6 separate regions of the Homo sapiens genome follow, and all the other regions are reported to be linked to region 1. The links are microRNA targets in miRTarBase. Many come from high-throughput screens and were not tested one by one. Region 1 holds a microRNA gene; each other region holds the end of a gene's coding sequence.

Region 1 (3,769 bases):
TATGAAACTGATGGAAAACCCAAGAGAGAGATCAATGAATAATACAAGCTGAAAAAATCCTAGCATATAGAAGAATTTATGTATGATAAAAGTATAATAGCAATAATCATAGGAAAATAGTTATTTGATGAATGGTGCTCAAATAAATGACTCTCTAGGGGAAAATATAAGCTATACTCTACTTCATACTAGTCACAAAATGAATTTTTGATGGACTGACAAGTTAAATATTTTTAAAACTATTTTAAAACTGGATTGTTTTAAATCCCATTCTAACCTTAGAATGGGAAATGTCTTTTCAAGTGTAAAAGCAATGGAAGAAATTACCATGATCTGAAGGGGGTTTAGAAATCAATCAATTTGACCAATAAAAATGTAAACCAAATCTATTATCAAAAGCATCATTAAAAAGTTAGAAGACAATCTGGGGAAAACATTTACTGCAAAAGTGATAAAAGATTAACACTCTTTATATATGTAAAACTCATACAAATCAACAAGGGAAACACCTGTACATCAAAATTCAGCAGAGACCATGAGCTGACAATCTACAGAATAAAATATGTAAATAGCTAATAGATATAAGTAACCACCATATTATGTATATGTTCCAAATTACCCATAATGATATTTGAAAGAAAAAAAAACTGACACAAAAGGCAAGGGAAAAAGAAAAGAGAAGCCACCAGTGAGATGTGAGATGTGTTGGGGGAACTGGGGGGTGAGGGGGAGGTCTGGTTACACTGCAACACAGTCCTTTATCCTATCCCTGAGGTTTTCAAAAGGAAATCTTATTTGTTAATAACTGGTGAGGCAGGCTAGTTCATATTTTGGGACTGGGTCGGTTCCCTAAGATGAATGAGACATGTAACGTTTTTCCAAGTTAGTAGCAGGATAGTAAGTGCAAAACCATCCCTAAGGATATGTTGGTTTTATTCAAACCGAAGTGAGGAAAAGAATTCTGTGGCTTGGATGTCAACGGCACTGGTAGATAGCTCTTCAGGAAAGTACCATTCACATCAGCCAAATGAGTCAAAAGAAAATGGCTCAGATTCAAAGAGATACAGAACAGCACTGCATGTACAGACACAATACAACAAACAACTCTGACGCTGCTATGTAAGCATTCACAGAGAAGAGGAGCCAAGAACAGGAAGGATAAGAGGCCTTCAGAGGCAGAAGACTGCCAGGCTGGAATTCTAGGAGTTGGAGATACTAGAGATCAAAAGAAAACGATGCCCAAGGTTGCTGTGGTAGTGGGCCAGGTAGAATTTTGGCCCTTCTAATTTTGGCTCCACACCCTGGATGCATGCTTTCCACTGAGGCAGCCCTTCCAGCAGCAGGCTATAGCAGCAGGACTGAGCAAGTCACATGTCAACTGAGGTACATATAAATGAAGCATTCCAGGACCCAGACATAACACTGTGGTACTATCATTCCCTCTTGTCAAGTGTACCATGGGAACCATGTGGAGAATCCTGTCCCTTCTCCACCCCAGTGGGAGTTGCCAGCCTTTGCCAAGCACAGGACATGCAGCCTGCTGCACACGTCATACCCCTTTCCTATAGTGGCTGGGCATGCCTCCAGGAAGAACATGCTGGCCCCTGGTTAGCTGGGAAGCTGGTAAACTCATGTGTGGCTGGCACAGCAAAGGGCCCATAGAGAAAGCAAGAGAGATAGGTATATGATGCTAGTCAACAAACCCAAAGAACACACGGGCATAAAGATCACAACAGAGCTCATCCATGTATACTGAGACATAGGGAATTTTAAATAAGATGCTTTCATACTTTTAACAATTTAAACAACAATGGGATAGTAGAAAATATTCACTTCAGCAACACAAGGTCATGATTAGCAGCATGGGCTCTGGAGTGAGAGAAACTTTGGATCAAATCCTGCATGTACCACATGCAAGCCACATCCAGTCATGTAAACTTTCTGAGCCCCAGTTCTCTTGACCAAACTACTATTAATAGTACCAGTACTACTATTAGTACTTCCCACACAGTTTTGTTAGAAGGATTAAATAAAATAATCAATGTTAAGTGTTTCCCACCATGCCTAGGCACACAGTAAACCTGATTATGTTATGATCACTGGCAAGAGAAGAAAGAATAGGAATCCTGACTCTGCCACGAAGTAATCTTAGCCAAGTTATATAATATTTCTTGGTCCCCTACTGCTCTATTTATAGTATGGATAATGTATTCGCTATCCCCCAATACTATTTTAAAGATTAGATGAGAAAATTTAAAGCAAAGAACTTTTAAACAGTAAAGAACAATACTAATGTAAAGTTAAAGTATTTTAAGGGCTCTCTACTTTTTAAAATACTGATTTTTAACTCAACATGGTATTTCCACACAATGGAATAATATGCACCCATTAAAGATGGTGTGTATCAGCCACCGTGTTGGCTCATTCCTGTAATCTCAGCACTTTAGGAGGCCGAGGCAGGAGCATCACTTGAGGCCAGAAGTTTCAGACCAGTGTGAACAACATAATGAGACTCCGTCTCTACAAAAAAAAAAAAAAAAAAAAAAAAAAAATTATTAGCTAGGCATAGTGGTGCACACCTGTGGTCCCAGCTACTTGAGAGGCTGATGTGGAAGGATCACTTAAGTCAAGCAGGCCAAGGCTGCAGTGAGCCGTGAATGCACCACTGCACTCCAGCCTGGGCAACAGAGCAAAACGTGGTCTCGAAAACAGAAAAAAATGTTGTGTATTATAAAAAGTTGGATAACTCTCCAGGGAATTATGCTAGGTGATTTTTAAAAAGTCAGCCTCAAAGGTAATATAAGGTATAACTATATTTACACAAGATTCCTAAAATAGCAAAATTATAGATATGAAGAATAGATTCATGGTTGCCAGGGATCAGGGATGGGGTTTAGATATGTAGATGGTGGGTATGGCTATAAAAGAATGACAGAAGAGATCTGCATGGTGACAGGACTGTTCTGCTTTATCAGACCGTATCAATGAAAATATCCTGGCAGTGATACTGTACTATAGTTTTGCCAGAGGTTACCAGTGGAGGAAATTAGGTAAAAGGTACATGGGATTTCTTTGTGTTTTTTCCTATATTATTTTTTCTACATTATTATACTTAATAGACAACAGGTCTTCAATAAGTTAATGGGAAATACATATTATTACAAAAAACTATGCATGGATTTCAAATTTTCAGCACCAAAATAAACTCGTGCTAACTTATTCTAACATGTCTGAACAGGATCTAGTTTGAGGCACTAAGAAGGATAAGACACCAGTTTGAAAAGAGCCCCTACCAGAACAACAATAATTCTGCTAAAATTGAAGCAAGAACAAACATCAAATTTATAGTGAAGCTTGGGTGGAAGGATGGTGAAATCATTTATGCTTTATAAAAAGTTTACAGAGACAATGCCCAGAAGAAATCAGCAGTTTACAGGATAACTCATTTTTTTTAATTATTATTATACTTTAAGTTTTAGGGTACATGTACACAATGTGTAGGTTAGTTACATATGTATGCATGTGCCATGCTGGTGTGCTGCAACCATTAACTCGTCATTTAGCATTAGGTATATCTCCTAATGCTATCCCTCCCCCCTCCCCCTACCCCACAGCAGTCCCCAGAGTGTCATCATTTTAAGAAAGGGTGAGATGTTGATGATGAAGCCTGCAGTGGCAGACTACCTACATCAATTCGTATCTTGTTCATTTCTTAATTGAAGAAGACCAATGATTAATAGCAGAAACGATAGCCAACACCACAGACATC
Region 2 (3,769 bases), not on the chromosome of region 1:
GCAGGAGGGGCCCTTCCCAAAGCCACTACTGTGACCTGCTGTTCTCATCCGCTGTGGACCGTGCCCCCAGTCCCTGGTGACCAGAGAACAGGCCCTCAGCCTCTGCCTCCCCAGTGACCCCAGAACGGGGCTGGAATCAGCTACTTTTGCTCCCCACATTCCTGCACATTGCCCGGGTCAGCTCACCCTTGAGAACCTAGAGAAGGTTCTTGGGTCCTGGCTCCACACGGCTCAGGGTCACAGGCCGCCCAGGCTGGGGGCTGAGGCTCTCCCGGTCCCCCTGGCCTGTGCTCTTGCTTCTGCGAAAGCGCCTGGCTGGGAGGCGCTTGCTGGGCTGGCTCAGGGCACACAGGGAGGGCTTTGTGGCCGGGACATGCAACCCTTTTGGGCCCTGTCCCTTCCTGGGCCTCTGGCTACCGGTTCCAAGACAAGTTCCGGCATGAGCCAGGCATGGTACCTGCTCAGATGACCAAAAACTCTTTCAAAATCTCATGGTTATGAGCCCAGAGCAGTGGATCCAGGACCCAGGCCTCCTCTCCTTGCCCTCCTCTCCCTGCCCTGCTCCGAGTCTGAGCCGACCCCTAGGACCACGTCCCTTCATCCCTCTTTGCAGTCCCCGCAGAAGCTAGACAGTGCAGAACCCCACACGGCAGAATGCAGCCCCGGGGTCCTGTGCTCGCCACCTCCCGGCTCCATCCACCACCCCCTTTCCACGCCCTTGGCAATGAAGCAGTGAAATCAGAGAACGCTACCGCTAACAGGAAGAATGCGCTGCGTCTCAGAAGCCAGGAAACCACGTGGGTCAGGGCCAGCCTGAGCAGACCAGGCCAAAAGGCGACCTCGATTTGTGACCAACACGTGGTGCAATCCCAGCACGCGGCGCTCCCTGCAGACATCAGCTTGTATTGAGGAGGCCAACCTGCAGTGGCCCAGAAGCAAACAGAGGTCTCCCATCAGGGTGGCCACAGGCAGCCCTGAGGACATATAGTCACCACGCGGGAGAGAGCAGCAGCAGGTAATCACAGAGGCCCCCCGTGACGGGCGCTCCCGGGAGGGCGCCGGCTCAGGCCACACAGGCACCGGTGTCGGGGAGCCACCTCCAACCCCCACCCCCCGTTCTCTCACGCCATGCACGCACACACCAGGCACCACGGAAAGAAAAGGCCCACAGACAACAGCAGGCGACACAAGTGTGGAACGGGGCGCAATCTCTCACCCTCCACGGACGTAACTGCACCCAGGACAGCCGGCTGTGTTCATCCTGCCCCCGTTTCTCTGAAACCTCACCCAGGGCAACAGGTACGGACTTCCACAAAGAGCTTATTTCCCATGGAAAGGTTAGTGCCATAGAAACGACTCAATTCGGGGGGCTTAGAAAAACAACGGGACACGGGAAGGAAACCGAACAAGGGGTTTTCTCTATCTAGGTGGAAGGAGGGGGCCCACAGAGGTTCTGCACTTGTCCTGGGGGACGGGGACTCTGATGGGGGCCACGGGCGACCCCACTCCACTGCACAGCACGTGTGTCCTCCCGCACTGCCTCGGAATCACTTTGAAAAGTGTTCTCCCTTCTTCTTCAGGGAGACACCTGTCCAGCCACCTCCCTCAAATGCCCTCCAGGCACCTGGGTCCCTCTGCAGCTCTCCCGCCAGGGCCTGGGCAGAGGCTGCTTTGCTGGTGAGAGGCTGTGATGCGGAGGACGGGCGATTTCCAAGAACCACTGCTCCTCAGGCACTTCCGGAGCTCTGCGTCGAATCTGTCGCTGTTTCTCGTTGTGGTCCCGGACAGGAGAGCCAGCGCCGGAGCGGCCAGCAAAACTGACAGCTGACCTTTACGAGGACGCACTTCGCATCTCCAAGACACACTGAAGGACTCCTCTCTCCTTCCTGAGCTGGGCTCAGCATTAGACAGCTCTGGCTCAACGCTGCTTGGTGACAAAGATCCAGGAACCACTGGCTGTCTTAATGGAAGTGCAGGAGGGGGCTTCCTCAGGGACCCCAGAACCACCCAACTGGCTGGAGCATCCCGTCCTCCGGTTCTCACCGTGTGGCAAACAAAACCAGTCGCGTTGGCGGGGGCTGGGCGTGGAGGCACAGGCCTGCTCACCACTGCTGCTGGGGTGGGGTCTCCTGCTCACGGACAGCCCAGGGAGGGGCCCTGGAGTTTCAGGCAGGAGAAATGGTTCCAATTGAAAACAGCAGATCAATGTGGGAGTGGTGAGGACTCTGCAACTGGGTGAAAAAGCAGCTGGAGCAGATGGCGTTTGGCACTGTTAGGTCCCCATGTGGCCGTCAGCACCGGGACATCGGAGCCACGGATAATTCGGGAAGGTCTGGTCTGCAGAGCAGCGGCCCCAATCGTCCCCAGCAGCGCGATGTCTGCGGCCGGCGGATCCAGGCTCACCTTTCATCCTAGGAACCTTCCACCGCGAACGCCAACCCAGGAAGCCGCTGCTCTTACTTGAAGTTATCAGACAGAGCGGCAGGTTTACTCTTCGAGGGGATTAAACCCAGCGGGAACCCTGGACCTACGGCCGGTCATCAGACGTCAACAGGTAAAATCCTCAAAAATACATGATCCCTTTTGTGTCTGTCTCAGGTGTACAATGAAGTCTGAATTCCATGTTTAAACAAACAAAGAAAAACTTGGGGTCTGAAGTGAAATCGGACACCCCCCGAGTTAATGCCAACACTCTCTATGTCACGTTCCGGGCGGAGAGGCTGTTAGGTGGTCCGTGGCTCGGCAGCTCCTGGCTTCCCAACAGGCATCTGTCCGGTGCCCGGGCCTCCCCGGCAGCCTTGGTGTGTGCCTTGCTGCGTTTCTGTCTGTCCTCCCGGACAAAGGCGGCTGGCCGTGCAGCGCGGAGCGGAGGGGCTGTCTTGACACATTCCTCAAGATGCTGAGCTCCAACCTCCTCCCCATGCCCGACAGGGAGGCCTGGGGAGAGGAGGTGGTGCCGAGGGAGAAGGAAAGGAAAGCAAAGAATTCCCAGAATCATACAATCAGTTGTCTGAACTTGTTTATGTGTTTTTGTCTTAAACCACGGGAAGGCAGGCGATCAAATGGAAAGGGCTGGGTGTGTCCAGGTGCCGCCGATGCCCACAGGCCGCCGCGGGCTGTTCTCCTCCGTCTGTGGGTGCGGCCGCCTGAGCTGCCGGGTCCAGCTTCGGGGTCGCCGCTGGGTGAGTCCCACTCCCCCGCGTTGCAGGTGACCTCACTCCCCGGTGCCTGGCCCCTGGGGGCCGGCAGCTGCGATCACTCCAGCCGGTGTGGTTACAGCACCACTGGGCTCCTCCACCCGGGACCTTTTGACCTCGGGCTCTCCAGTGGAAGAGGCGGAGGCAGAGGCGGTGGTGGCAGTGGCTGGGGTGGTGGTGGCCGTGGCCGCGACGGCTGCTGCTGGCTCCTTGGGCCCCACCTCGCACACCCGGGTGACCACCACCGGCGCGGATGAACTCGCTTGGGTCGCAAGGAGCTGCAAAGGGCTGGTGAGGGCTGGAGTGGAGGAAGAAGAGGGTTACTCTGGGGTCTGGTTAGGACCCAGCTGCTTTTTTCAAGTCCCCTATACAGGGGCTAAGCCACCAAGCCGGAACCGGAGGTCAGTGCACCCCTGCCAGGCAGGACGGCTACCCTTGCTCTGCTCCCTGCGGGCCCTGCCGTCCCCTCCCCACCTCATCTGCCCTGTCTCTGCTGGCTCCAGCCTGTTGGGTGGAGGCCCCTCTCATTGCTGTCTAGATCCTGCTGGACATCGACGGCTTGCCTCACTCCT
Region 3 (3,769 bases), not on the chromosome of region 1:
GCAACTCTCATTTTATGGTCAGATGTGGCAGAAGTTTTCCTAACCATATTAGTAGGAGCTTTCAAACATTTTTTAAAGGAAAAAAAAAAGGCCTGTCTTGTGGTGCTTCTTCCCACCACTCCATTGATCTGTGTGGCAAGGGTTCCTACAAAATTCCCAGGGAAGGGGTAACTTTCAGTGCCATAAACCCCATTCACAGTAAGGATTTTCAACTACACCCTAAAACTATGATGGTTCTGGGCTCCTCCAACATATAGCTCAGTGAAGATCATCTTGCCTGAGAACTCTGAGGTCCTTTTCACTGCTGCCAAGAACATAAAACTAGGAGAGGGTATCTGAATGGTGAATGCAAAGTCAGCCTGCACTGTGTAGCAGTTTACATGATGAAGCCGAATTTAAGAACTGATCTGCTAGATGGATCCCACTGGTAGAAATGATCCCCTTGCCAAGGTTAAGTGTCACCTCTAAAGGAAGCCCTAAGTCCAAATGAGCCTTGTTTACAAGGTATAATATAAAGAGACCTATCCTTCTAATAGCTAAGTGACCTCCAATCCCAAAGCAGCCACTCTGGGAGACCACACACACCACAGCAATGCTATCATGGTTGGTAACAAGGAATCCCTCTTTGGAAACAGCTTTCTAAGCTTCTAGCATTTTTAATACCCGCAAGGTAAACTTTCATCCTTTGAGGCTGTAGTTCATTGTGCTAACAATTCAAGATCAAATCTTGTGAGCCAGATGGTACAATCCAGGTGGATACTGTAAATTTTCATCAGTATCAAAAACAGCGACTACAGAATAATGACAAACTTTTTGTGTGGTTCATAAACTGATTCCAAAAGTGACTGCAGAACTAGCCAAAAAGCAACAAGTTTGTACTAATAGCTACTATTTATTAGATAGTCTGCAAAGCACTGTGAAACATTACATACATTATCTCAATTATTTTTTATGAAAACCCTATGAGGTGGATATTTACGTCCACGTCTACAGATAATGCAAGAGTTTCTGAAAGAATAAGCTACAAACCCGTGACATGCAATTTACCTATTAAATGAATCTAAAAGTTTAAAAAAGCTGGGCGCAGTGGCTCACGCCTGTAATCCCAACACTTTGGGAGGCTGAAGTGGGCAGATCACTTGAGGCCAGGAATTTGAGACCAGCTTTGCCAACATGGTGAAACCTCGTCGTTACTAAAAATACAAAAATTAGCCAGGTGTGGTGGTGATGCCAGCTACTTGAGAAGCTGCAGCACGAGAATCACTTGGACCGGGAGGCAGGAGTTGCAGTGAGCCAAGACTGTGCCACTGCACTCCAGCCTGGGCAGCAGAGTGAGACTCTGTCTCAAAAAAAAAAAAAAAAAAAAGCCACTTGCCCATGATCACGCTGCTAGGAAAAGTCAAACCATAATTTAATCCTAATCTGTCACACACAAAGACAACATTGACAGGAATAAAACTTACTTCCATGTAGGAGAGATGCAAGTTGTCAAAGAGAAGCAGAATCACTTTATCATATACAGAATCAATGTCATCACTGTCTGAAAAAAGATGCTCTGAACAATTCTTCCAGTTTATTGATTCTGAACCTGCCATGTCTTCAAAAATGGCATTATTAGTGAAGCTGCTCAACAAGTCCTCTGAAACAAAACAGCTAGCGAAATGGGTATTTGTATTTAGTCTAAATTATACTTTTAGGACTTCATCTTATAGCTATACCCTGAATCGATATGCTTAATAACATTAGGATTGAAGTTATCACTGTAATAGCAAAAGAACAACCTAAGCATTCACCAGTAGCAGATTAAATCAATTATGTTATATCTATTCAAAAAAATTTTAGGCAGCCAAAAAAAGAATGAGGTTCCTTGCTACTTACATGCTGGTATAGAATGATCTCCATTAAAAAAGAAAAAAAGAAAAAAAAAAGGCGAGGGCTAGACCTCCATGTATAGTTACTATTTGTGTTACACGTGTTTGTTTAGGCACAGACTCTTTCTCAAAAGTATAAGGCGAAGTGGTAACAGTAACTTGTCAAACAGGAGCCAGGAGCCAGAGAACAGGGGTGGGAGAGGCCCTTTATATGAAATTACTTTTGTATCTTGTCCCATGGCAAAAGTTAATTATTCAAATTTTTTTTTAATTTAAAAACAATACAAGCTGATTATACATTTGACAAATACAAGGAATTTCTGACTGCAGGAAAAAACAAAGCATCAACTACAAAGAGAAGCAGAAATTCTTCTTGAGCTGCTGATTTTACTATACATTTGGGCTATATTTTTTCTTAAGACAATCACTACAAAGTAATAATATAAATACCTTTTTTAATGTGAAAAGGTATAAAATCTCCTTTAAAAACTTTTCACTTATCCATCATATAACATCAAATGTACCTGTAATCCCAAGTATGATTCTTTTGAGAAGGAAAAAAGTCAGATCAAATACATCATTAAGGAAAAACATGCACACTAAATAGACTATGAACTCTACTGGGACAAAGACCATTATTTTGTGTATTTTTTCATTCCCCAATTCCTGACAGGATTCTCAGAATCGTTTCTTCATGAATAGCAAATTGACTTATTGGTTAAATTAGCAACTACAGAGCTGCCTAACAACAGTACAAAATAAATGAATAATTCACCAGAAACTAGCTCTAGATACTAATTTTAATTACTTTGCAGCAACATAATTTAGTACCAAATGTTTAACAAGTACCCATTATAATTACTAAACTGTGAAGTCACTATTATTTGTATCTGACCAGCTATACAAAACTCATCAATTTTTCTTTTGAAAAAAGGTAGTAAAAATCGCAAACGATAAAGAAGACACTACTCATTAAAAGTCATGTTTACTAATCTAGCACCATAATTCCAGTCTTAGAACCTCCCATGCAGTTGGAAAGGGATTATGGGAAGAGGTGAGTATGTTGGAAATGTCGGGTAGTTCTCAAATTGGGGCCCCATTTTGCTTGCTTTAAAGCAAAAAACACAGGGTCTAGCAAAGAAGAGAAGTGCTGAGGCTGGAGACGAAAACAAAAGCTTTTGGTTCAGATAGTAAACGAGGCCCTCAAGAGCAGTAGAATCAGTATATCCTGAAGGCAGTGCTGGAGGCAGTCTCATGCACTAGGGGGTTTCTTCTTGGCATCCAAGTCCTTTTTAATTTCTTCAAGTTTTTTAGCCAGGTTTGGTATCTTTGAAGAGAAAAAAGGTTATTATAATTTTGCATCTACCTAATCAATATTCTTGTACTTCTCTTCCTCCAAAGATAAATGGTTTTACAAGCTTTTATCTTCCTCCAAAAGAGATCTGCTAAATAGTGGTTATTTCTTTTTGCTTTCTTTTTTAAGATAGGGTTTCACTCTGTCACTCAGGCTGGAGGGCAATGGTGCAAACACAGCTCACTGCAGCCTTGACCTCCAGAGCTCAAGTGATCCTTCCCGCCACAATCCCGCAAGTAGTTGGGACCACGGACATGCCACCACCCCTGGCTAATTTTTGTATTTTTTGTAAAGATGGGCTTTCGTCACACTGCCCAGGCTGGTCTCGAACTCCTGAGCTTGAGCAATCTGCCCACCTCGGCCTCCCAAAGTGCTAGGATTACAGGCGTGAGCCACTGCACCCGGCCAATAGTGGTATTTCTTAGCCTTATAACTGCATGTGAAAGATATCAGAAGTTGTCAGATAAGTATGCTCCTTCTCTGAAACCCACTTCTACTTTTGTATACCCACTTCCGCTCGATCTGGTGCCAAGTAAAGGTTGTA
Region 4 (3,769 bases), not on the chromosome of region 1:
AGAGCTGCTTTTGTCTTGAATAGGGAAAGGTGGTTAATGCTCCTGTCTTCTGTCCCTTCAAGGTGGTTCAGTCAGGTGGCAAAAACATTGAACTTGCTGTCATGAGGCGAGATCAATCCCTCAAGGTAATCACCAAGTTTGTCTGCTTTCTTTACCTGTCAGTTTTCTCCCATGATCAGGGCTGAGCAGTACCAGTTCCGAAGGAAACATCATAGGGCCATTCTGTGGTTTTAACATTAGGAAAATGTCTTTCTGAGGCTCCCCATACGTCAAAGAGAAGATTCCCATCTTCCTCTGATTAGATGGTCCACGCGTGTTCTCTGGGCATGCTGAGCGGCTGCCAGTCAGATCTGCTGCTGCTGCTACTGCTGCTTAATACTTGTCTAGGTCAGGCCAGCATCCTCTTGTTTTTCTTGAGGTTCCTCTCCAAAGAGGCTGTATGAGCAGCAGTGCCAAAGCCTGGCCGCCCTCCCCAGAAGAGGGCGCTGGTTCCTTGGCACCTTGTGTGGCTTAGGTAACCATGAAGTTTTTTTCTATAGATTTTAAATCCTGAAGAAATTGAGAAGTATGTTGCTGAAATTGAAAAAGAAAAAGAAGAAAACGAAAAGAAGAAACAAAAGAAAGCATCATGATGAATAAAATGTCTTTGCTTGTAATTTTTAAATTCATATCAATCATGGATGAGTCTCGATGTGTAGGCCTTTCCATTCCATTTATTCACACTGAGTGTCCTACAATAAACTTCCGTATTTTTAACCTGTTTTTTTTTTTAAGAGAATGTGTATCTTTAGGTGCAATCACAGCAGTCCTCTCATCTCTCACCCTTCTTTTTCAACCCTGAGCCACCGTAATTGAGCTTTCCTTTCTGTTCCTTGTGGCTAAGACAGTAAGCCAGTGTGAGACACAGGTTCCTCCCTTGGGAAGTCAGAGCTGCTGCCCTGGGTCCTGCAGAGAAACCTGGCCTTCAGCAGACCTGTTTCTCTGTTGTAGACACAGAATGACTTCCGTTTGCTTTTAGACCTTCATTCTAGTCCCCTAATGAATGTATAATGTCAAGGACACAAACACAAGTAGCCCTGGGTTCATTCTGTAGAGCAGCAGCTTTGTTCAAAGCAGCTTTGCATGTCTGACTTTCATAGACCACATCTTGACGTCTGCCCCCTATGTTGAAGACTGGTTCTGGCTATTCTCTGCCCTTTCCTGTGTTTTGACTTCTAGTCCCACAGTTTAAGGCTTTTGGGTCCTCTGGTCCTTGGTTTTGGGCATGTATCTTCTAAAAAGGAGTAAAGGGGCCCAGATACATTTTGAGCTCAGCGTAAAATGTACAGTTGTCAAAACAATGAACATTTTAACAGCAAGGTCAGCTGGCACACGATAACCTGACTACCTTGCGATGCTCTGGGAGGCAATACCTGTTTCACCAAGTTCTCTAGCTGGGTGAGGACTGTGGCCACCAGTATCTGGCACACGTAACATTTATTTTTCTGCTGGTCAAGGATACCCATTACCCCCACCCAAGAAATGGGAGGGCCCCCCACTGGCAGTTCTGCTGTGGAGCCTGATGGCCACAGGCAGGTAATGAAAGGAGAACTCATGCAGCTGGTGTGTCTCCTCGTCCTCTCTGAGGGCCACTTTTAAGGTCACCTGGAAACCCATTAGACTAAAATGGGATGCTCTGAGCCTAGAACCAGCCATGTCTTTGTTTTTCTGCGTGGGTCCAGGGTGCAGCTTGCTCATGGCTGTGTAACATGCTCTACGGTGCCTGAGAACCTGAACGCTCCTGAGCTGGGGAGCTTGGAGGCAGCAGGAAGGTGGCAAAGGGGCCACTGCTTATGATACAGGTGTTATCTGTGAGCTGGGTTTTTAAAAGAACTTTGTATCCAGTTTCTGAGAGCAGAGCCATTCATCCCAGAAGGGTGGCCCACAGGGAGAACCCGGGTCTGCTGGCCGCACTTCACCCGACCAATTGGGTCAGCCACCTCGTTCCATCACCTGATGGGGCCCAAGTCTCCCCAAATTCCACCAGCCTAAGTGTGTGCTCCAGACCTGGACATGATGCAGAGGTGACTTGGGCAGAAGAGTCAACAGGATTCTTAGAGCATCAGAAAAGAAAATTTTAAAGGTTTGCATGTTTATTTATAATTACAATTTACATTACTCCAACAGAGGAGCCCCCTTGCTATGTTCTAATTCTTAGCCATTAAGTCCTACAAAAATAAACCCAAGCTTTTACAGTAACTTAATCAATACAGAACTAAAGCCTTTATAGCTATTAGAGGGGTTTAGTTACCAAGGTGCTTATTTTCGACAAAATGCCCTGTCACTCAGAGGACGCATGCGTATACTAAAGTTCTGACCCATCGACTCATGCAACAAATGTAGACCCCACCCTCCCTCCACCCACTGTTACAACACAAACACAAAACAACGATGTACAACAGAGGGGAAATATGCTCTTGGTCAACTGACCTTGCAGAAAAGACTGGCTTGTTTCCAAGTGGATGAGAACGCCAGTGTGTGGCCAGAGTCCAGCAATGACTGACCGGCCCAGGTCAGAGGCTGGCAGGGACCACAGAAGGGCCAAGGCGCTGCCGGGGCTCATCCCAGGCTCCAACCCCAACCTGGAAGCTTGTGGACACCAGGCTCTGTGCAGCAGCTCCGTGGCTAGCGTCCAGGGCCCCTGGCCACTACTCCCAAATGCTTCTAGTCCACCCACCCCTGGCCAGCCCCAACCTTGACATCACTGTGGATGCCATCAGGGTGGTCTGGTTCACTTATACAACATGATCCATGGGAAAACCCCTTCCGTGCCCTCCACCCACCCACCCCTGCCCCCCACGCCACCCTGTGCTGGCCCTGCCTGACTCCTGAGACCCCACCCTTGGCAGTGGGGTGCCAGGCCAACAGCACCAGGGGCCAGCTGGGTTACAGAGATGTACTTGGCTGCCACCTCTGCCAACAGATTTGGTTCCACTTTTAAAAGTCAAAGCTTGTCATTAAAAAAAAAAAAAAAAGTCACAAAGTAAGGATTCAGCTTTCACTATAGAAACCTTTTTGCAAAATACCAAAACCTTAGAATTAGGCTATGCGCAACTAAAAAGGAAACACAGATAAAGAGACCTCAAAGAGGTTACCCATGAATACTTCCCCAAAACAAGTGGTTCTAACTCAGACCATGTCCAAGTTCAGTTAAGTCCAAAACACAAGTAGCAGTATGGGTCTCTTCCAAACTCCGTAAACAAAGTGACCACCTCTCCCTGTAAGTGCAGCGTTTTCCTCGCGTCCTGACACACACAGCGTCAGTTATGCGCCACTTCAGTAGGAGCCTGCAAGAGATGACAGGAAGTCAAGCATCTGCTGGGATAAGCTAGCACTGTTGCCCCTGCTGGCGAGCAGGAGCCACTCAGCCTCCCTCCTGCCCCCAGAGTCAGACTGGCTACCCCCATTCTTCTCACAACCCACTCTGAGAATCCTACTTGTACAATACACTGGGGACAGGGACGCAGCTAGTGGCAGGAGGGCTAGTCTTTCCAGGGCCCACCTGGCTGTCCCGAGGCGCTGGGTGGGGTTGGCACCAGGCACCCCATGTGGGACGCTCCGCCCAAACCCTAAGGTGCCCACAAATCCACTGGGACCTGGTTAAAAATGAAGCCTCTGATTCACTTAGGGCCGGGTTGGGCCAAGACACTGGCTTTGGAGCAAGGTCTCACTTGCTGGCTTCACCTGGGTGGTGAGCCCCCAGCCCACGCGACTCCCGCACCACCTCACC
Region 5 (3,769 bases), not on the chromosome of region 1:
AATTTTAGTTGTAATTTCATCTAGGTGAAAGAACTTGGGCTTTGTAGGCAAATAGCCTAAGATTCATTCTCAACCCGGCTGCTTACTACATTGTAACTTGGGCAAAGAACCAAACATCTGAACCTTGCTTTTCTCATTTAAGAATCAAGGATAAAATACCGACCTTTCAGGGTTAATAGCTGCCATAATACATGAAAGCAACCTGTATGCTCTCTGGCAGTTAGTAGGTATTCAGATATTAGTATCACTCCCTAAACCTATATTCATAGGTAGCAGGTAAGCAATTTAAAGAGTTTTGATTCAGTAGTATTTACAAAATGGGAAGATGATGCTAGTATCTATATAGAACATAACAATGTATGTGTTCTGTGCTGTTTATAATACTGTTTTACTTTTCACCAGGAGGTGGCACTTCTCTATTAGCTCAGCTCTCTAGGTGTTTGATAAGGTTACTATGGGAAGTATCATTACTAACTTTTCTTTTACTTGTGTTGTAGAAGAAGCGCTGCAAGTACAAAATTGAAAAAATTGAGACCATAAAGCCTGAAGAACCATTGCACCCCATAGCCAATGGCGACATAAAAGGAAGAAAGCCCTTTACGAACCAGAGAGATTTTTCTAATATGGGAGAAGTTTATCACTCTTCTTATAAAGGTCCTCCATCTGAAGGAAGCTCAGAAACTTCATCACAGTCAGAAGAGTCCTATTTTTGTGGCATTTCAGCTTGCACAAGTCTGTGCAATGGACAGTCTCAAAAGACAAAAACTGAGAAGAGGGCTTTAAAACGAAGACGATCTAAAGTCCAAGACCAAGGAAAATTGATAAAAACTCTAATACAGACTAAGTCGGGATCATTGCCGAGCCTGCATGACATAATCAAAGGAAACAAAGAGATCACCGTGGGAACATTTGGTGTTACAGCAGTCTCGGGACATATCTAAAATTAATTGAACTTTTCATACAGAAGACTTTTTTGTTGTTGTTCTTTGAAGAACAGTCTGTAGTATTTGAAGGGTTTGGGGGAGGGAGAAAATATTAATGGGAAAGGCATTCAGAAATTATGGTTTCTACCTTTTTAAAAAGTAGATGGGATTGTGTCAATCTTGGTTAATGAGCTACAGTTTTACAAAGCTGATCACTTCCTATAAGGACAATGGTAGACATTTTATAAAGATGTTTTTTCACAAGATTAATTACTGGGACAAAAGTAATTTGGAAGCCCAGTTCCTTAGGTGGGATAGGAATGAAAGCCTAAACCTCTTCCTTTAGCTTTGTTCCTATTTCTTGCACCTTCCCATATTTATGTGCCTTTTGTCTATTTATAATGCCACTGGAAGAGGAGGGATAACTTTTTCTGTTATTTGATTTCTTTTATAACTTTGTTAGGTTTTTGAAGCTGCAAACACTACAATGCTTTGAGGGGGTCTGTGCCTGAAGCTCAGGAGTGTGGATCAGACAGTCTAAAGATCCTAAAAACTTGCCAACTGGATCTTTGTTTAGCAAACTCACTGGAAATGAACACTTAATGGAATTTTTAAGTCTGTTCTGTTAGGTAGATGGTGATGCTCTTGTTATTTTCACTTATTCAGACTGGATTACTTCTTACTTAGTTACTAACTCAATGAGGAAAAATCCCTACAGGATCTTTTTTTGCAAACAACTGATATATGCAGACAAATTTTTGACAAATTCACCTTTTAAACACACTTAACCATTTGTGAAGGTTTTCTTTAGCTTACATTTTAAACATACACAATAAACACTAATCCTCCAAACTTTCACTGTTTTTATTAGTATGAATATAAAATTTGAAGGTTTGGCCAATTAGTACAAGTCTCATGATATAATCACTGCCTGCATACATATGCACAGATCCAGTTAGTGAGTTTGTCAAGCTTAATCTAATTGGTTAAGTCTAAAGAGATTATTATTCCTTGATGTTTGCTTTGTATTGGCTACAAATGTGCAGAGGTAATACATATGTGATGTCGATGTCTCTGTCTTTTTTTTTGTCTTTAAAAAATAATTGGCAGCAACTGTATTTGAATAAAATGATTTCTTAGTATGATTGTACAGTAATGAATGAAAGTGGAACATGTTTCTTTTTGAAAGGGAGAGAATTGACCATTTATTGTTGTGATGTTTAAGTTATAACTTATTGAGCACTTTTAGTAGTGATAACTGTTTTTAAACTTGCCTAATACCTTTCTTGGGTATTGTTTGTAATGTGACTTATTTAACGCCTTTTTTGTTTGTTTAAGTTGCTGCTTTAGGTTAACAGCGTGTTTTAGAAGATTTAAATTTCTTTCCTGTCTGCACAATTAGCTATTCAGAGCAAGAGGGCCTGATTTTATAGAAGCCCCTTGAAAAGAGGTCCAGATGAGAGCAGAGATACAGTGAGAAATTATGTGATCTGTGTGTTGTGGGAAGAGAATTTTCAATATGTAACTACGGAGCTGTAGTGCCATTAGAAACTGTGAATTTCCAAATAAATCTGAACACTTGTCTTTATTAATTACTGGCTCTTCTGTCTTTTAAAAGAGAACTCAGAAATTATTAATCTTTGAACAGAGATTTAAGTTTTTGCCACTTTTAAAGTTAAATATAGCAGCATTCCATTCAATATTGATCACATTTCAGCCAACTACAAAATGATGGTACTTTTACATAAACATTTTGCTCCCTATGCTATCAGAATTTCAGTTTTTCATATCTAAATACAGCATAACATTTTGTAACATGAGGTTTATTTTTTCCTCTCTCACATAACTACATGAGAAAAAAAACTTAAGTGAAAATAATAGATTTATGCCTATTAAGAAGCAAAAACTATATAGATATTTATCCAATGGGATTTTTAGTGTTCCCTGATGATCAACCTCATTTTATTTCTTCTAATGTTAAGTAAAGCATTAAAACAGTATGAAATAAAAGGAAACTAGGGAATTGGTAAGAACAAGGATGCAAAGTAAAACAATTCTTTTAATTGAATTTTTAAAAACATTAAAGTTGTGGCTCACGCCTATAATCCTAACACTTTGGGAGGCCGAGGCAGGGGATCATTTGAGGAGTTCGAGACCAGCCTGACCAACATGGTGAAAACCCGTCTCTAATAAAAATTAAAAAAAAGTAGCCGGGCATGGTAGCACATGCCTGTAGTCCCAGCTACTCAGGAGGCTGAGGCAGGAGAATTGCTTGAACCTGGGAGGCAGACAGGTTGCAGTGAGCTGAGATTGCACCACTGCACTCCAGCCTGGGTGGCAGAGTGAGACTGTCTCAAAAAAAAAAAGTTATGCATACATATAATTTGATAAATTAGTTTTATAAGGCTTATAAAGTAAGAACAGAAAACAGTTCTCTATTCTGTACCATTTCACTCACACACAACGCACACACACACACACACACACACTACCAGTACCACCCATCTTTCTCTACCAAAGATTTCTTGCTTCCCAGTGGCAAACATTTTTTATTCCGTCTGCAGTTATTGTGCTTCCCTTACCTTGCTGCTTATTTTTCCATTTTTAGATGTGTCCTCAGTTTGAATATACAAACTTGTACGCATGAACATGAGATAGATATAAACTTATATTGGTTAATGTAATTGGATAAGTCTATTCAAAATCACACAACAGGACAACTTAGAAGTACTGCTTTTCTTCAACTGATTGATTTAAAAAATTTCAAATCTGTAGATAAGTTGAACACCATGTGCCTTTGCCCAGATTCACCAGTTGCTAATCTTTTTAGTTTTCTTCATGTGTAT
Region 6 (3,769 bases), not on the chromosome of region 1:
AGTGCAGTGGCACAATCTTGGCTCACTGCAACCTTGACCTCTTGGGCTCAAGTGATCCTCCCATCTCAGCCTCCCAAGTAGCTGGGACAACAAGCACATGCTGCCACAGCCTGGCTAATTTTTTTGTATTTTTTGTAGAAACAGGGTCTCACTATGTTGCCCAGGGTGGTCTTGAACCCCTGGGCTCAAGCAGTCCACCCACTTAGGCCTCCCAAAGTGTTGGGATTACAGGCGAGAGCCACCGCAGCAGGCCTTAAATGTTTTTTAAACTTCTTTGAACTTAATTCCATCTGAAATCATCCAGCAGCCTCCAGAGATAACAAATAACAAAGTTAAGGAAAAAGCATGGTCATATAGTTATTGTATGGAATCCGTGTGAATTGGTGGGTCCTTAGACACCTTCAGCATAGAAGCATTATTCCCATTTTCCTGTTGTGGAAGCTGAGGCACAGAGAGTTGAGAGTTATCATAAGATCACACTAAGAGAGTGACAGGACTGGGGTTCCAACCCATAGCGGTGAGTACTAAAGCCACCCTCCTTCCCCTCCGCCAGGCCAGCAGATGAGTCGTTGGCAGGATCACTGCATCTGTCATCCCCTCGCCCTCACTCCAGCCTTTTTTTCCCTCCACAGTCCTCACTGGGCTTTGTGGCCCTCGTGCTGAGCACACTGCACACGCTCACCTACGGCTGGACCCGCGCCTTCGAGGAGAGCCGCTACAAGTTCTACCTGCCTCCCACCTTCACGCTCACGCTGCTGGTGCCCTGCGTCGTCATCCTGGCCAAAGCCCTGTTTCTCCTGCCCTGCATCAGCCGCAGACTCGCCAGGATCCGGAGAGGCTGGGAGAGGGAGAGCACCATCAAGTTCACGCTGCCCACAGACCACGCCCTGGCCGAGAAGACGAGCCACGTATGAGGTGCCTGCCCTGGGCTCTGGACCCCGGGCACACGAGGGACGGTGCCCTGAGCCCGTTAGGTTTTCTTTTCTTGGTGGTGCAAAGTGGTATAACTGTGTGCAAATAGGAGGTTTGAGGTCCAAATTCCTGGGACTCAAATGTATGCAGTACTATTCAGAATGATATACACACATATGTGTATATGTATTTACATATATTCCACATATATAACAGGATTTGCAATTATACATAGCTAGCTAAAAAGTTGGGTCTCTGAGATTTCAACTTGTAGATTTAAAAACAAGTGCCGTACGTTAAGAGAAGAGCAGATCATGCTATTGTGACATTTGCAGAGATATACACACACTTTTTGTACAGAAGAGGCTTGTGCTGTGGTGGGTTCGATTTATCCCTGCCCACCCCACCCCCACAACTTCCCTTTTGCTACTTCCCCAAGGCTCTTGCAGAGCTAGGGCTCTGAAGGGGAGGGAAGGCAACGGCTCTGCCCAGAGCCATCCCTGGAGCATGTGAGCAGCGGCTGGTCTCTTCCCTCCACCTGGGGCAGCAGCAGGAGGCCTGGGGAGGAGGAAAATCAGGCAGTCGGCCTGGAGTCTGTGCCTGGTCCTTTGCCCGGTGGTGGGAGGATGGAGGGATTGGGCTGAAGCTGCTCCACCTCATCCTTGCTGAGTGGGGGAGACATTTTCCCTGAAAGTCAGAAGTCACCATAGAGCCTGCAAATGGATCCTCCTGTGAGAGTGACGTCACCTCCTTTCCAGAGCCATTAGTGAGCCTGGCTTGGGAACAAGTGTAATTTCCTTCCCTCCTTTAACCTGGCGATGAGCGTCCTTTAAACCACTGTGCCTTCTCACCCTTTCCATCTTCAGTTTGAATGACTCCCAGGAAGGCCTAGAGCAGACCCTTTAGAAATCAGCCCAAGGGGGAGAGCAAGAGAAAACACTCTAGGGAGTAAAGCTCCCCGGGCGTCAGAGTTGAGCCCTGCCTGGGCTGAAGGACTGTCTTCACGAAGTCAGTCCTGAGGAAAAATATTGGGGACTCCAAATGTCCTCTGGCAGAGGACCCAGAAAACCACACTGGCTCCAACTTCCTCCTCATGGGGCATTACACTTCAAAACAGTGGGGAGCAACTTTTCCACCAAAGCTACAAACCTAAAATGCTGCTGCCCCAAAGCACAAGAGGGAAGAGCACCGCCGGGGCCACAGGACGTCTGTCCTCCAGTCACAGGCCATCCTTGCTGCTCCCTACTGACTCTAGCTTACTTCCCCTGTGAAGAAACAGGTGTTCTCGGCTGAGCCCCCAACCCTCTGCAGAACCAGGTTGATCTGCCACAGAAAAAGCATCTTTGAAGACAAAGAGGGTGAGGTCTTCATGAGTCTCCTGGGCCCAAAGCCATCTTCTGATGGAAGGAAGAGAGTAGGGCCAGTGAAGGCTGCCCAGAGAGAATGTCACAGATGAGGCTGCCCCTGCCCCCCCCCCGCCAGGGAGGTTTCATGAGCTCATGTCTATGCAGCACATAAGGGTTCTTCAGTGAAAAGCAGGAGAAGAGCCCACTGCAAGGATAGCTCATTAGGCACATGACCGATGCAGGGAAGGCCATGCCGGGGAAGCTCTTCCTGCAGGTATTTTCCATCTGCTGTGCCAAGGCTGAGCGGCAGAAACTTGTCTCATAAATTGGCACTGATGGAGCATCAGCTGTGGCCCACAGAGAGCCTTGCTGAGAAGGGGGCAGGTAAAGCAGAGATTTTAGCATTGCCTTGGCATAACAAGGGCCCATCGATTCCCTACTAATGAGAGGCAGGGAGAGCATGGGCAATGGAGACCCACCAATGATCCCCAACCCCGGTGGGTACTGGCTGCCTGCCCTGGGCCAGGGAATGGCTCCTTATACCAAAGATGCTGGCACATAGCAGAACCCAGTGCACGTCCTCCCCTTCCCACCCACCTCTGGCTGAAGGTGCTCAAGAGGGAAGCAATTATAAGGTGGGTGGCAGGAGGGAACAGGTGCCACCTGCTGGACAATCACACGAAAGGCAGGCGGGCTGTGTACTGGGCCCTGACTGTGCGTCCACTGCTGTCTTCCCTACCTCACCAGGCTACTGGCAGCAGCATCCCGAGAGCACATCATCTCCACAGCCTGGTAAATTCCATGTGCCTCTGGGTACAAAAGTGCCTCAACGACATGCTCTGGAAATCCCAAATGCCACAGTCTGAGGTTGATATCTAAAATCTATGCCTTCAAAAGAGTCTCTGTTTTTTTTTTTTAACCTGGTAGACAGTATAAAAGCAGTGCAAATAAACACCTAACCTTCTGCAAACTTCAGGCTTTTATTTCTGCCATGTAGATCACGTATCCATTCGTCCACTGACTCGAGAAGCCTTCAGCTTGGAGCCTGCTCTCAGGCAGGCAGTGTGCAAGGACTTGGGACTGCCAAGGTGAACACAGTGATCTGTGCTAGAGCTGGCCAATGAGGAAGGGCAGATGTGCAGACCTAAGGGACTAAGGGACATGCCAGGGAGGAAATGGGCAAGATCCAGGTGACAGAGTGTCGGGTGGGGGTGTGGGGATGTGAAAAGGTGGCTTCCTGGAGTGGTCTGAAGGCTGAGGCCTCGGTGCAGGTAAAAGCAGCAGAGCTTCTTGAATTATAATGTGCCTGGGAGTCACCTAGGAATGTGGTTCGAATGCGGGTTCTGATTTGTGGTCTGGGGTGAGGCATGAGACTGTGCATTTCTAATAAGCTCCTGGGTGACCTGTATGGTGATGATCCTCGGACACTCCGAGCGACAAGAGCTTAGATGGCATTCTTTGCCTCTGCTGTGCTTAGTCTATGGCACACTAATCTGTACACACACATCTCT

Evidence for each region. Region 1 holds the annotated microRNA hsa-miR-3978 (GUGGAAAGCAUGCAUCCAGGGUGU, at 1,297-1,320, opposite strand). A microRNA usually pairs through its seed, bases 2 to 8, with sites in the 3' UTR of a target mRNA and lowers its output. Matches are read on the target gene's strand: a 7mer-m8 pairs with bases 2 to 8, a 7mer-A1 pairs with bases 2 to 7 and ends in A, and an 8mer does both.
Region 2: the mRNA of FOXK1 is a reported target of hsa-miR-3978. Seed matches in the 3' UTR shown: 7mer-m8 at 3,064-3,070 and 7mer-m8 at 1,331-1,337.
Region 3: miRTarBase lists STMP1 as a target of hsa-miR-3978. Seed matches in the 3' UTR shown: 7mer-A1 at 2,935-2,941 and 8mer at 2,903-2,910.
Region 4: miRTarBase lists PSMA7 as a target of hsa-miR-3978. Seed matches in the 3' UTR shown: 7mer-m8 at 701-707.
Region 5: the mRNA of SUCO is a reported target of hsa-miR-3978. Seed matches in the 3' UTR shown: 7mer-A1 at 2,482-2,488.
Region 6: the mRNA of STEAP3 is a reported target of hsa-miR-3978. Seed matches in the 3' UTR shown: 7mer-m8 at 1,663-1,669 and 7mer-m8 at 1,765-1,771.

What each region holds. Positions count from the first base shown.
Region 1 is chrX:110,079,672-110,083,440 of GRCh38, reverse strand. MIR3978 (microRNA 3978) reads right to left here and starts at 1,323; the gene lies at 1,223-1,323. The region is part of intron 3 of TMEM164 (transmembrane protein 164); the gene reads right to left.
Region 2 is chr7:4,761,910-4,765,678 of GRCh38, reverse strand. It overlaps FOXK1 (forkhead box K1), which reads right to left. Exons shown (of 9, transcript NM_001037165.2): 9 at 1-3,495. The coding sequence ends at 3,215. Among named protein-coding and RNA genes, the nearest start is that of AP5Z1, 12 kb to the left of the region's middle.
Region 3 is chr7:135,673,520-135,677,288 of GRCh38, reverse strand. STMP1 (short transmembrane mitochondrial protein 1) reads right to left here. Exons shown (of 3, transcript NM_001130929.2): 3 at 873-3,198. The coding sequence ends at 3,124. Among named protein-coding and RNA genes, the nearest start is that of STMP1, 13 kb to the right of the region's middle.
Region 4 is chr20:62,133,720-62,137,488 of GRCh38, reverse strand. It overlaps PSMA7 (proteasome 20S subunit alpha 7), which reads left to right. Exons shown (of 7, transcript NM_002792.4): 6 at 63-125; 7 at 540-756. The coding sequence ends at 632. LSM14B (LSM family member 14B) reads right to left here. Exons shown (of 9, transcript NM_144703.3): 9 at 2,115-3,326. Among named protein-coding and RNA genes, the nearest start is that of PSMA7, 7.8 kb to the left of the region's middle. RefSeq lists an enhancer at 3,147-3,646.
Region 5 is chr1:172,609,319-172,613,087 of GRCh38, forward strand. SUCO (SUN domain containing ossification factor) reads left to right here. Exons shown (of 24, transcript NM_014283.5): 24 at 498-2,515. The coding sequence ends at 941. Among named protein-coding and RNA genes, the nearest start is that of FASLG, 48 kb to the right of the region's middle.
Region 6 is chr2:119,262,425-119,266,193 of GRCh38, forward strand. STEAP3 (STEAP3 metalloreductase) reads left to right here. Exons shown (of 6, transcript NM_182915.3): 6 at 633-3,228. The coding sequence ends at 914. It overlaps LOC105373581 (a long non-coding RNA gene), which reads right to left. Exons shown (of 2, transcript XR_001739666.3): 2 at 3,201-3,769. Among named protein-coding and RNA genes, the nearest start is that of STEAP3-AS1, 15 kb to the left of the region's middle. RefSeq lists a silencer at 2,900-2,999.